2 separate regions of the Homo sapiens genome follow, and region 2 is linked to region 1. The links come from fine-mapping of genetic effects on gene expression. Tissue or cell type: monocytes. Region 1 holds a variant in brackets; the other region holds the start of a gene. All regions are shown on one strand. Distances are between the middles of the regions.

The links. PIP is the estimated chance that this variant, and not a neighbour inherited with it, causes the effect.
Region 2: C11orf40 starts here. The variant in region 1 is fine-mapped to the expression of C11orf40 in monocytes (Fairfax 2014, PIP 0.95).

What each region holds. Positions count from the first base shown.
Region 1 is chr11:4,416,248-4,424,547 of GRCh38, forward strand. It overlaps the pseudogene OR51R1P. Among named protein-coding and RNA genes, the nearest start is that of TRIM21, 27 kb to the left of the region's middle. The variant G/GT (reference allele first, on the strand shown) is at 4,445.
Region 2 is chr11:4,575,541-4,582,190 of GRCh38, forward strand. It overlaps C11orf40 (chromosome 11 putative open reading frame 40), which reads right to left and starts at 2,280. Exons shown (of 4, transcript NR_172945.1): 1 at 2,140-2,280. OR52I2 (olfactory receptor family 52 subfamily I member 2) reads left to right here and starts at 6,203. Exons shown (of 2, transcript NM_001405760.1): 1 at 6,203-6,324.

The sequences.
Region 1 (8,300 bases):
AGTTCCTAATACTTAGGGAAGAGGTGATTGAAAAGACTAGACATGCCGAATGGACAAGGCCTTTCCTCTTCTGGATTTAGTATAAAGCTCTTGCTTAGATCTGATCCTGCAGGTATCAGGAAACTACCAGTGATCATAAACACAGTTATGATAGAAAACATCTTCCTAATATAAATTTGATCACCATTTTTTCTCTGTATACATATACTAGCTTAAATGTCCATATTTGTCATTTCATAAATATTTTGCTGACAACTTAGAAATATTTATGAAATGACAAGTATGGAAATTTGGACTTTTGTCAGAATGCAGAAAGACAGAAGAAAGTGAGACAGTTAAGCTGCTATAATATCCAGGAAAATGGTGATTATTCAGCCAGATTAGTTTCACTGGGATCTAAAAGGAAGGAATAGTTTAAAGATAGTCGATTTGGAGAATATGTTACAAGTAAAAGGATATACAAAGTTGTCTTAGTTTTTTGGTATTTCACAGATAACAGGAAAGGAAGGGAGGCACTAGCCAACAAGTGCTGAATGGTGAGCTTTGGGGAGATGTGGGGGAATTAGAGTTTGGTTTGCAATATAGATTTAATATCTTGCAGAGTCACCATGTGAGATGCTTAGGAGATAAATGGAGATGTAGTCCTGTTTTAAGGAGAGAAGTTGGAAAGAAAGTGTAGCCTGAAAGTGCTATGTGAGTTTATTAGAACAGATGAGCTCACACACTGCACTTTGACCTCCATGGAATAACATGATTAACCCTGGGGTTCTGGAAGTTTATGATGCTCTGCCTGACCCTTCAGGGGATGCGCCTCAAGATATGTCAGCCTCCACCTTCTGCCCCCAATGTGGGAGTACTTCAGAGTACTTGGCCCTATCATAACAAGTTTCATAGTAGGAGGGCTGAAGAAGAGATATTTAAGAGGAAAGTTCCTTCTAATTGAGTTTATGGCCACAGGACTGTTTTGAAGGTAGGGCCAGAATAAAACATGCAAGCTTTAAGCAGCTTATAAAGTGAAAGTAGAGTTGGTAAAGAAGCAGATTAACAAAATTGAATGTGTCTGGTAAACTACTATCTTGTTTACCAGTTCTTAATATCAAGAACTATTGACTACTTCCTTTAAGCCAGTTCATCTTCATAGGAAATAAATTTCATCATTAAGCACATTTAAAGAACCTGTTTTGGGCCCCAAAGGCATTTCTAGAAAAGAAATACAGAAAATATTGGTTCTATGACCGCACTAGAGGAATATGCAACCAGCCTTCTAAGAGGATGGTTTTGAAAATACCTCATTTGTTTGAGTTTGGCTTTTATGGTGTATTTGTTAACAGATCTGTCAGACTGGAAAACTCACCTCTAAGAATAAGTAGAAGTGGATTTTAAACTTGTTTCTAATATAATTTTAAATTTCTACATAAAATTATTCTCCTTTCTTCAGTTTTTAGTCTGAGAAGACACTCTGGAGTGGGAGACTTTTAGGTTTAACAAATGAAAAAAAAAGATTGTTTAGGCCAAAGGGAAAATAGTGGCTAATGAAATAGCCATAAGCAGTAAGCAGAGATCAACTCAGAAACTTTCTCTTTTTGAATAAAAATAGAATAAAGTGCTATATCATTTTATTCAAGCCCAAAAGCTCAGGAAACAGAAGGAAATAGAGCTCCTAAAATGAATGGAGTTTGTTTCATAGCCTAAGAAAGGGTTATGAGGTAGCTCTTCTTTCTCAAGCCCACACTTACTAGGGACTTTATAAGTAATGATCAAATGAACAATGCTTCTTACTCCTAGGGTGGACAACTACTGCCTGGAATCTCTATGTTCTCCTGCAACACCAGCACTTCTGGTCAGTCTACCTTCCTCCTCACTGGTTTTCCAGGCCTGGAAGCCTCTCATCATTGGGTTTCCATCCCCATCAACCTCTTCTGTGTGGTTTCCATCCTGGGTAATAATATCATCCTCTTCCTGATCCACACAGATCCAGCCTTACATGAACCCATGTATATCTTCCTGTCCATGTTGGCAGCCTCTGATCTGGGCCTCTGTGCCTCTACCTTCCCCACTATGGTGCGTCTCTTCTGGCTGGGAGCTCGTGAGCTGCCCTTTGATCTCTGTGCAGCACAGATGTTCTTCATCCATACCTTCACCTATGTGGAGTCCGGTGTACTGCTGGCCATGGCCTTCGATCGCTTTATTGCCATCCGGGACCCTCTGCATTATGCCATAATCATTACCTGCTCAGTCACAGCCGAGGTGGGAACTGCCATTCTGGTGAGGGCTGTTCTGCTCAACCTCCCGGGACCTATCCTCCTGCAGCAGCTGCTCTTTCCCAAGATCAGCGCTCTCTGTCACTGCTACTGCCTGCACTGTGACCTTGTGGGGTTGGCCTGCTCAGACACCCAGATCAATAGCCTGGTTGGCCTGGTTTCCATCCTCTTCTCACTGTGCCTTGACTCCTTCCTCATCATGCTTTCATATGCCCTGATCCTATGAACTGTGCTGGGCATTGCATCACCTGGGGAGCGGCTCAAGGCACTCAACACGTGTGTCTCACACCTCTGCATTGTTCTCATCTTTTATTTGCCCAAACGGGCTGTCTGTCTTGCACCGAGTAAAGAAGCATGACTACCCTGCTCTGGCAGTGCTCATGGCCAACCTACACTTCTTGGTCCCACCCTTCATGAACCCCATTGTGTATTGCATCAAGTCTAGGCAGATCCGTCAGAGCCTCCTAAAGCACTTCCAGCAGAAGAGGATTGATGCTTTCTAGAATAGCAGAAGGACCCTGACACATGACCCTGAGATTTGGGGTAGGGGAGGAGTGGTTGCGGAGAGTTAATTTTTGAGGTTTTTGAGTGATTCAGCTGTGTTACAGTTTTTGGAGACTAAAAGTGTTGTAAGCCTTATTCAAGTATCACCTTGATAATCTTCTCATTGCTCTGATTAGAGCTGAACTATCTCAAACTCATATATGCTGTAATATCTTCTTATCCAGAGGGCTTAACCAAACCGAGAGAATGTGTGTGTGTATCTACCTGTACAGGCACCTCTCTCCTTCCCTCCCCTCCCCTGGATTTTTCTTTCTCATTTGATTTATAAGCCTAAGGAAGAGCTATAGTAAACTATATTCACCTTAATACTGGCCTTCTTTTCCCAAATTTAATTTTAACCAGCTCATATAACAAGAATCAGAAAAAGGGTGGTGGGTGGTAGGGAAACATGTATGGCAACAGTGTACATGCCAAATTTATTTGCAGTTATTTACAGATTAAGGAGTGGTAGTTTCCTCTTGATTCTTTATGCATTTCTGATCGTGCATTACAGAAAGTTTGGCATTGCCAAGCCTAGGGAAGTTGCTCACTATAATTTCTGGATAGTGCTAGTTTCTCAGGTACCAATGATAAGGGTGGACTAGTAGTCCACTTTCACAGTTGATGATCTGCTAGGATGTCAGCTCCATGAGTCCAGGGATGCAGGGCTATTTTGTGCACTGATATATTCCCAGCTCCAAGTTCAATGTCTATCATACAGTAGGTGCTCAATACATATTGTAGAATAAATGGGTAGGGTAGATGCAGGAGCAAAAAATTCTTGACAGTGGATCCTCAGGAAGGTAGGGGACTGAGCCATCTGAATGTCTGAGGCCTGTGGGGATAACACGCAGTTGATAAACTAGAATGGAATGAGATAAAGATGGATGTCAGAGAGACTGGGGACAAGGTGTAATTCTCTATAACACATGGTCGAAGACTTTCTCTAAGGATGCAGCTCAGAGAGGAGAGCTGTGTTTATTGTGGTGCTTTTTCCAAAGCTGCTTCCAAACTTCTAGAAGGAAGTTTACCCAGAAACTGAAGGATGTCTCACTTCAGCACTATCATATCCCTTGGCCTGCTCAGTTCTAAAATATTTGTAAGTTTCTTGAAGAATTGAAATAGGGATATTCCTAGTGGAAAACCACTCGAATTTAAAAGAAGTGATGATAGAGCTGTTAGAAGGTACAGTGTCTATTTCTATGGCCATCCAGACAAATGGGAATTTAATGATTGTGGTCATTTTTGTGTGTAATTTTAATGAATTCAGACAAGAGAGAATGAGGAATTTGGAGGCAAGAAGGCAGGGTGGGAGCTGTGAATCCTGTGCAAGCAGCTCTAGTTGGAATGGTTGTTTCCCCTGCTGGATTGTATTTCATTGGCCGTTGTAGTATGGGTTCCAAGGAACTCAGGGTCCTGTGCCTATCAGAAACTAGGAGGCCACTGCCAATGCAGATAGATATATCTGAAGTCACAGATCCTGCCCATAGAGCTCAAGTAACAAGGATAGCAAATCATGAATTTAAAGTTATCATGGTATCTAGTAGTAGCCAACAAAAAGTTTCATTATATCCAGTTTGACCAGCCACTTTGGAAAAGGAGGTCACTTGAAAAGATATCTTGTACATTTACACAGCAAG[G/GT]TTTTTTTTTTTTTTTATCAGGGCCACAGATCTTAAGCTGAATAAGCAAGAGTGTTATTCAGGCCCTTCTGTCTGCTTCACTTACCACCCCAATAACAAAGTTTCTGATCAGGGAGCCAGCATGTCCATCTCACTGAGGTTCCCTCCAACCTCTATCAGAAACCTTAGGCTGATATGATGGTATTCAAGACCACAGGCATCCTTCACAGTTAAAAGAATACAGAGCCCTGAGCTCAGGCTGGACAATTCCCATTCAGAGGATTACCAGAATAAAGCTTGGATATTAGATATCCGATCTAGCATTGTAGGGATCTTGGGCGTTGTCATATTTGTCTTTTATCCACAACAGCTCTGAGCTTGGACACTGCTCCCACCCACCCTTAATCTCTATCCCCATGCATGACCATTTTCCTTGCTGGCCATTTCATGACTGCATTGACCTCAAGAGCTGGAAGGGATATGGGGGTCTATGCCTCTACAACTTTACTTTCAGTGTGCAGGCATCTCGGCATGTCTCATAATGCCTTCTTTTGCCTCACAGGCCAAATAGCTACAGTACTGTAGTATCTGAGAGTGACACAAAGGGAGTCCTGAGATGGTCTCTAAAAAGCTTTGCTACTAGTTTACCCAGTTAAAGATTATTAGGGTATGATATACAGTGGATTTTAGATTTCGGAATTTTTTTTTTAAAACGTCAGTGTATATAAATCTAAAGCTCCTGCTCTAAATTCTTATGCTAATCAGACTGCCACCCACCCATGCAGAAAACCTCAGTTAAAAAAATCTCAGCTCCAGCCCATACCAACTGTGTGATCTTAAGTTAGTCACTTTCTCTCTCTGAGTCTCCATTTTCTCATCGTTATAATGTGGGGATACTTACCTCATAGAGAGGTTGTGAGGATTTAAATACAAATATATATAAAGCACTAAAACCGACAGAGAACCCATTTTATGTATGTTTGTGTGGTTATTTGATTAGTGCCCATCTTGCCTGTTCACTGCAAACACGATGACGATGTTTGTTTTTCCTGAGTTGTCTAACTCTAGTGCTTAACATGGCCCTGAGAATGGTAAGCCATTTATGTGTTAAATGAATGAATAAATGAAAGACTGAATTCCTCAAAAATGGTAAAGGCAATTGATTGTATAATTTTTTGTTGAGCTCAATAGATGGGAGCACATATTAATGTAATTATTATATGTAATTATATACTTTGTATAAGGTAACTTTGATTTTGGGAGGAAAAAGCCAATTGTGTGGTTGGTTGCAAATGCAAATATTTTGTTCACGGTTACACTGCTCTATAGAAGCCCTGGGTTTATTAATTCATAACTGAACCTCTCAAGGACTTTAGGTTCCAAAGGGAAGATCCAAATCTGGTCTAAGAAGTTCCATGTATATAATTCCAGCTACCAACGCTTGTCCTGGGTTAACTGGACAGTATATGCTGAGTCTGCAACACTCTAGAGCTGAGTGGGGTCTTTGGTGACTGGGAATGAGTGACTGACTCACCTTATATATTTTTGGATCAAGGAAAAGTTTTTTGCATACACTTATGCTAGGCCTGGCTACTAACAATGGATTGGAGGGGAGGATGGTCCTAGACAAGAGGAGGAAGAGGAGAAGGCTTATAAAAATCAGGATGCATGTCCCAAGTTCTTCAAAGCCAAGTCTTCCCGAGAATGGCCTACATTGTTCATGGATTGGCCATGGAAAAAATGATTTCCTAATAGTCCTCTGTAAAACAGAGCTATTTTTCCCTTTACAGAGAAAAAAAAAGGAAACCTACAGTGACTGATTCAATGAGCAATTGCTGTGAATTCACTCAGAGTGATGTGAAGTTATGATGAATGCAAATTTATTTATATTGGAATGCTTTGTGGATTAGAAGAATATAAGGAAAAATGCCCCTTTGAGTAAAGTTATGTCCTACCACTTCCTTCCATGGACCAGTATAAGAGAATACTTTTGAGGGAGATAGGACAGAAGTCAGTCGAATTTTTAAATTTTATTTTTTATTTTTGTGGGTACACAGGTGTTTATTATTTATGAGAAATAAAATGTTTTGATATAGGTATGCAATGTGAAATAAGCACATCATGAAGAATGGGGTATCCGTCCCCTCAGGCATTTATCCATTGAGTTGCAAAAAATCCAATTACACTCTTTTAGTTATTCTAAAATGTACAGTTATTGACTATAGTCACCCTGTTGTGCTATCAAATAGTAGGTCTTATTCATGCTTTTTAACTCACCTACGACAAAAACTCAAAAGAATTTTACTCACAACTTGGAAAGAAATAATTTTCTATACTTGCACCAGTTCTTTCCTTGACCGTCTCTTGTGTTCATACCAATCAGGTGTTTGGCCCTATAGCTCCACTGAAATGGCTTTTGTCAATGTTCCAATGAACTATATATTGCCAGTTCCATTTGTTAATACGTGTATTAGTCTGTTCTCATGCTGCTATGAAGAAATACCTGAGACTGGGTGATTTATAAAGAAGTTTGATTGTCTGACAGTTCCACATGTCTGGGGAGGCCTCAGGAAACTTACAATCATGGTGGAAGGGGAAACAAATACGTCCTTCCCATGATGGCAAGAGAGAAAACTGCCAAGTGAAGGGGGAAAAAGCTCCTTATAAAACCATCAGATCTCGTGAGAACTTACTTACTGTAATGAAAACAGCATGGAGGAACCACCCCCATGATCTAATCACCTCCTGCAAGATCCCTCCCCCAACACATGGTGATTATAATTCGGATTACAATTCAAGGTGAAATTTGGGTGGGGACACAGAGTCAGACCACATCAATACCCAATCCATTGCTATAGCTGTAGCATTTGACACTGTTGATCACTCCCAACACCACTACTTCTCCAAGATTTTGTACTTCTGCTTTCCCCTGTTACCTCACTTTTTTTCATTCTCAAACTCTTTAGCTGTTTCCTCATGGTACCAAACTCAGTTTGTGTTAACTTGGATCCATATACTTGCCTTGATGGCTACCTGGGCAGCCAGAGGCCCCTAGGTGTTGCTTGTGCTACTGTTGCGATTGCAGAGCCAAACTGCTCTTGTTACTGCTTCTGTATTTGCCCCAGGCTACAGGTCCAGTTGCAGTGACTGTTCTCAGTCTCTCATATGGTTCCTGACACATCCTAACATTGCTGTATGATGTAGTTTGTCTGTGTCCCCACCCAAATCTCATCTCAAATTGTAATCCCCATGTGTTGAGGGAAGGACCTGGTGGAAGGTGATTAGATCATGGAGGCAGTTTCCCCCATGCTATTCTCATGATAGTGCTCTCTCTCCTGCTTTCTTGTGAAGAAGGTACCTGCTTCCCCTTTGCCTTCCACCATGATTGTAAGTTTCCTGAGGCCTCCTCAGCCACGCAGAACTGTGAGTCAATTAAACTTTCTTTTATAAATTACCCAGTCACTGGTGGTATCTTTATAACATTGTGAGAATGAGTGAATACACTGTACCTCATGCCTTTGCTGGTATTGTTGCATGTCTGTCTGTATTAGTCAGCTCAGGCTGCTGTAACAAAATACCATAGACTTTGTGACTTAAACAGTTGAAATTTGTGTTCTCACAGTTCTGGAGGCTGGAAATCTGAGTCTGTGATTTGCCAGAATGGGTTCTTTTCCTGGCTTGCAGATGGTCACCTTCTCACCATGTCCTCATGTGGTGGGGAGAAAGCACCAGCAAGCTTTCTGGTGTCTCTTTTTATAAGGACAGTAATCCCATCATGAAGTCCCTACTATCATGACCTCATCTGACCCTAATTACTTTGCTAAAGGCCCTGTCTTCAAATACAGTCACATACATTGGGAGTAAGGGCTTTCACACA
Region 2 (6,650 bases), 160 kb after region 1:
CTTGTTGCCCAGGCTGGAGTGCAACGGCACAATCTCTGCTGACCGCAGCCTCTTCCCCCAAGGTTCGAGCGATTTTCCTGGCTCAGCTTCCCAAGTAGCTGGGATTACAAGGCATGCGCCACCGTGCTCGACTAATTTTGTATTTTTAGCCGAGATGGGTTTTCTCCATGTTGGATCAGGCTGGCACTCGAGCTCCCGACCTCAGGTGATCTGCCTGCCTTGGCCTCCCATAGTGCTGGGATTACAGGCATGAGCCACCGCGTCCAGCCAAAAAGGTCCTTCTTCTAAGCCTTCTGCTATAAGGGACGTTAAGCCCACGAATTAGAAACAGCCTTCCTAGGGAAAGCAGGGTTAATGCTCCCATCCCAGCCTCTTAGTGAGGCCCTTCTTTAGGAACTATGCCTAGTCTGGGGTTATTCCAATGGCCCCACAATAACCACAGAAAGGAAGTGGTGAGAGAAAAGATGAGGTTTACCGGAACTGAGAAGTATTTTCTAGTATTCCACTAGCCCAAAGCATCTCAGTTCAGTGCTGATTTTCACTATTTCATTAGAGAAAGCGAGGAATGTTGAGCTTGTTGTTCGAGTCTTCACTTCCCGGGCAAGTCGTGAGATTATGAGAAAGATGGAAGGAAACAGAACTAAACCTAGGTGCCTTATTCGTTTTGTTTTTTCTCACAGCAAATCAGCAAAGAATTTCTTATCTCTTAAAGTAAGCAGAAACAGAAAAAGCTGAAAGAAAGACACAGAGAGAAAGGAGAAACTAACTTAGAAGTCTCCCAGTTTCCACCCAAACTACCCAGACCCCACCCACCTCATTTCAGTCAGGGGCTTATAAAGCCTAAGAGGAGTTGAAGTTTAACTTAAATAGAAGGTGAGGGAACGCCATTGGTCAGAATTCTTGAAGCCTGGATTGGCTGGAGCCACGGAGGCTCCTGAACCCACTAAACCAGAAGCAAAGTGGCAGCTGAGAGCTGGTGCTGATTTTTTAAATTGGGAGACTCCTGAGTGTGTTCACCTGTAACTACAGTATCATAATTCACCTTCCAAAATTTAACATCAGGATTCACAAGAAAAAAAAGTTGCCATTGCCAGACATGGGCTAGAATCTTAAACTTGACAGTAAAGAAAATGAACTCTACATTGTGAAATATACATCACTCCCTAGATTCTATGATCAGATCTAGAACCAACTCAGAATAAAGTCACAGAACCAATATTAGTTAACTTTCAGTGAATTTTTCCTATCAAAAAGTATCTTTTAAACTAGCAAAAGAAGAAGAAAAGGGAAGCATATGGTTTAGCATGGTAAGGATTCTCTTGTCCTAATTGTGTTCAGGACAACTTAGAAAACAGTTTTCTGGGTCCTCATTTCCAGCCTGCCAGCTTATAATCACACTTGAGAGTCTACTTTCTGGGGCCATTCCTGCTATCAACTGTCTTAAGTTGGGTTCCTTAGAAACTGACTTTGAGACCTTTCCATGCTGAAAGTTTATCAGAAAGTAAGCTCACAAACAATGTCTCAACAGGTGCAAAGGAAGCAGAATTTTGCAGAGGGAGAAGGTGAATTACAACGGAGTTTCATCAGACTTCCCAGCTGATTTACGAGAAACTCTGGAGTAGAGATGGTCCTACACACTTGTCCTGAGTTAGGCAAGGGAGTCAGGCCTTTAAACTCACCATCAACTAGTCATTAAATACAATCATTGCAAACGGAGGGTGGCTAATTTAGGGTAATAGAGTTCCCTTTGGCTGAAGGTAATTCCTGAAAGAAATGTAGGTGTGAACTATCAGCAGCTGATAGCTCCCAGCTTATGAGGTAATGAGTGCTTCAAGGGGGGGATCTGTGTGGAGCTACACAGTTTACAGCTGGGGAAAGTTTATATCTGATTAGTCTTCTGAGAGGACTTGAGATGGGTGTCAGATCCTAGGGTTCAGGTCCAGCCCATGCTGAAGTCCGAGGGGAGTGGGTGGATGAACAGAAAGAACACTCGGGGGTCCATATGCAGGTGAAAGATGACTTCATTCAGCAGCAGTTCTTATTAACAACTTTCTCACACTGTCCACCTTTATCTCAACTGTGTGCTCTGGCTCTGTGGCTCCTGCCGCCCCCATGCCTGCAGCTGCATAGCCGGCTCACCCTTGGCTTCAGGGTCAGCAGCTTAACTTTTTCTCTCTCTGGGCACCAGTGTGAGCTGTGTTGTGGGTCCCCTCTGTCCATCTGCAAAATGGACAGCTTTGGCTCTCTTTCTCTGGGCACCAGCGCCTGCACTAGAGCCATGTTGAGTTGAGCCAAGCCCCAAAAGTCCCTGTATAGTGTTAGCAAGGCAATTATACCTTTTACAGACAATAGTGGCTCAGAGCCAAGTATGAACTTACACAAACAATCTATATAACAAGTAGAAGTGTGCACCTGTGCAACAAACTTGCTGAATCATGCAGGCCTGGATATCTGCCTTGGCTTATTCCTTGACCAAAACACATCCATATACGTTACAATGGGTGAAGGGAATAAATGGTCAGACTTTTCCTGATGATAGAATGGACTCTCCCATTGTTGCTCCCATGCTTCTTATCATAGTTCCTGTTTGTTAAGACATTATGAAACAGGTAGAATAAAATTAAACATAATTTAAAAATGAGGACCAAAAATAAATAAAAGTCTGTAAGAAGCAATATAAACAGACAAAAAATATATTCACCTTCTCAATTTTGGTTTTTAAAAGATTCAGGCATAAAATAACAGAAACAAAACTATTAGAACGAAAATATCAGACAAATTTGGAAAATACATTTAAAGCTCACTTAAAATGTGCTTGTATTTATTGGTTAACTTTTTAGCAATGGAAATTGTAGAGAAGGACACACGTAGAGAGCTGGAAGTGATAAATTCTCCTGGCAGGAGGCCAAAGACCTTAAGTAATTGATGTGTCTTGACCTGAACCTCAATCTCAAGAGACTCATTAAGCTGATCCATCTCTAAGGATATTCTGCTGTTTGAACAATTCTGTTGCATTCTCTGTAATAAAAAAAGAGATACTTTTGTGAAGAAATAACTAGAATCTTGTAGATTTTTTCATTAGGTGGTATTATGGCTGGCTCTTGATGGCCCAAAATGAATTTATTCCCTTGGAAAATATGGCAGGGTTCTTCCTAGTGAAAATTAGCTTAAGCAAAAAGGACTGTGTGATTGACATGGGACTTGTGTATCAATACTTGCACGCATGCGTGTATGCACACACAAACACACATACACACACAAGCCGGACATTTGCCTTTATGCTGAGGTGGCAAATAGGAACAAAGCTTTGGCCTAATGAATTTCAGACTTAATCCCTAGTTCCCCTCAACGTAACTTCTGAGGTTATAACGTCTGCAGGCAAAGATTTCCACTATACCCTAAAATCTAGCCACTTGTCGACTATATCATCTCTTCCTTTTATGCTATACTTTCTTCAGCTGCCTAATGTGTGTCCTAGTCCATTTTAAGTGCAAATTTCCATTACAAAAAAGACTACAAAATGGATCCAAATAGGTTGGAGTCATTAGAGATACCGAATATAGACCTATATGTCACTTTATCAGCTAGAAATTCAGCATCTAAATTCTCTTTCTTGGCTTCAGTCTGGAGCTTAACATACCCCTGATGCCTACAACACTGATGTAAAAAGTATACATATTAACATTTGAGAAGTCCCTATTCTAAGCCACTCCAATATTTGCTAATATTTTATTTAGTATTTTTGGGTCAGTTCTTATAAGAAGATTAGTCTTTTTTCTTTTTTGCACACTCTTTGCCAAGTTCAGCCATCGACATTAATCATCAATACTGTGTTACCTTTTAAAGGGTGAGAAAGACAGTAAGACAGGGTAAGATGGAAAGCACTGTGTGTTTATAACTAATTTGGACAGTGAAATCTCACCGCTTTTGCAGAATTCTATTCAGTAGAAGTGAACCATTAGGTCCAGCACCACTCAGGAAGAGGGGCTTACACTGGGGCACGAATGCCAGAAATGGAACACGGGGTTTCATTTGTGATAACTACTACAGGTACCTCCTGGGGAATCTTAGTAATATTTGGGGCGGGGGACTTTCAGGACCTCAAGATTCTGCATCAACTAATGTAAATAGCCAAGTCAATAGACTGAGATGACATGTGTGTTCCTGAGGATAGATCTTTATGTATTTCTAAATGCCTCTTTTGTGTTGGAGTACAGTGTGGAGATTTGAAAAGGGAGAGATGAAGGAATTGAACTGTTTTCTGAAGTTTGAAGACCTTGTCAATATTTCTTGGGTTTCTTTAGCCGTATTATCTTGAACACAAGAAGGCAATTTTAGCTGGACACAAAATCAAACATTTCTGCTCAATTTTTGAGATATACAACTCTTACCTATTTTTCTCTGCTTTTTCTGTTCTCTTACAGGCTATGGCAGCTTTGTTCAATGATTGGTTTTACGTCATCCTAGGCATTCTTCTATATGATGCAGGTTGTAAAGGCTGAATGGCAAGGACTATGGGCAAATAATGACAAAGGAGGGACAATCAAAGATGTTGAAAGCTCTTGCTTCCACGTAGAATACCTTCTCTTGTATCATTATTCTGTTACCTTAGGTCTTTGTCCTTTTTGGAATATTTCTATTTGGAAGTCTTCTGCCATGGGACTGGGAATGAAAAAGTGAGTTTAAGGCCACCATCTGTTTGTGAGGATCCACTACTGCTCTGAATGCTTCCGTAGGAACAGGTTGAATCTTAGCAGAGAGTATCCCAGTTTAGCTGACTCATCTCATGCTGGGGCTACTTAAATCATATCTTAATTGTCTTCTGCATTTGACTGTTCACTTATCAATGTTCAGTATGCTAGTTGATGTTTATGTTATGGCCTGCTCTCTGAATGACCCTACAGGAAACAGGATGCACAGGTTTTGGAGTTCAAAATACTAAGGTGTTGGTAGGACTAGTCATTTTGCAGGCTTGAAGAATGGGTCTTCTATCAGATGTGAAGTTAAACTGAAGTCCACCTGGTCTTTAAGAATGTGCTAGTTTAGGCTGAAGAAGGCACAAAGCCTCTTCCCACTCCTTGCTCATCACCCCTCAAAATAAGACAACAAATGGCCTCTCACCATTATCTTCATAAATACCTATGTCTCCATTGAGGATTGGGGGAACTGGGAATATGCAGCATTGTCTCCCGATTTTTTATATTTCCAAATATTTATATATTCTTTGCCATTAAAAATACAATAAACTTTATATCTTCTGCCTGTTGACTTCTTTCTCTCAACTTTATTTCTTCCCAAAGATGATGCCCAGGCAGAAGTCATGACCTTTAAAACATGGCCCCATACACCCCTCTAGCCTCTTGTATTTTCATTCCTTTTGAAGGCCCCTGACTCTACCACCTCTGGTTTATTATCTATTTGGAGAACATTTCCCTTATCATACCTTTGTGCTCAGGCACATTTCTTATCTCCAATTTGAAAAGCTCATCTTCCTTGCTCTCCCCAACATCCTATTTCCCTTCTCCATTCAATAGGACATGATAGTAGTGTCATGGGAAACATTTAACTAGCAAAGCCTACCTTGAGTCCCCAGGCAGAACGAGGAAGAGTGAACTGGACTTTGAAATATTAAGTACACTGTTAGTGTGAATAGTTCTACGATAAAATAAAGTGACTTATGGTTGTCAGAATTTAGATCTTAAACTCACTTGCTTACTAACTTTGTGACCTTTATGAACCTCGGCTTCATCTATAAGATGTCAATGCAATGATGACAGTTACTTCAGGAGATTCTGAAAACTGACTAATTTTTGAAAAGCATTTATTAGGATGCCTGGCACATAGTGGCCTTTCACAAATCCTACCAATATTGGATCTTCTTTTTTCCTTCAGTTTGTACTCTATACTCTTGGTCTAACTTTTAGGTATCCTCTGAGGACTTGAAGAAACAAGGACTCTCCAGCCACTAAGCATCTGCCTCCTCCTGCAATCTGGAAAGCCCCAGGGGCCAGAGCACACACACAAAAAGCAGTCTCTGGAGGAGTTGCAGTGTTTGGCTGCTGGGCAGAGGCCAAGGTAAGGTGGGTGTCCAGGGACAAGGCAGGATGATAGAGTATCCAGAGGGAAAAGGGAGCTCCCAATGGGAATTCTTTGGAAAAGAAAATACTTCTCCCCATGACTATCCATTGTTCATTGATTTTGTGTCATTTTTTCCTGCTCCTCTTGAAGAGTCCTGTACAAATCCCTCTTCTTCTGAGTAAAAGAAATGTAGACTACCAGGCATCAACCCATCAGGGAAAGTTGAATAGAGAAGATTCCAAGGATGTAGGTAACTGACCTGGGAATCAGGTGTTGGGCTGATAGAGATCGAATGTTGGGCTGATGACCTGACATCAAGGCTGGGTCACCCCAGAATGAAAGTTATAAGGCCTCATGCCTCCCATATAGGGCTGTCTAGGTCTGGTGGTATATCTGCTATCAAGACCTTATGGAAATGATGTTTGGATGAGGGAGGTGGAGAGGGAACGGAAATATGGTTACTTTGCTTCAAAGCAGAGACAGGAAAGGGTAAGTCCAATTTTGAGCTGGTGGAGTAACAGTTTTCAGGGACCAAGAGAAGTTATAAGAAAATAATCCAAGCAATAGGGGTG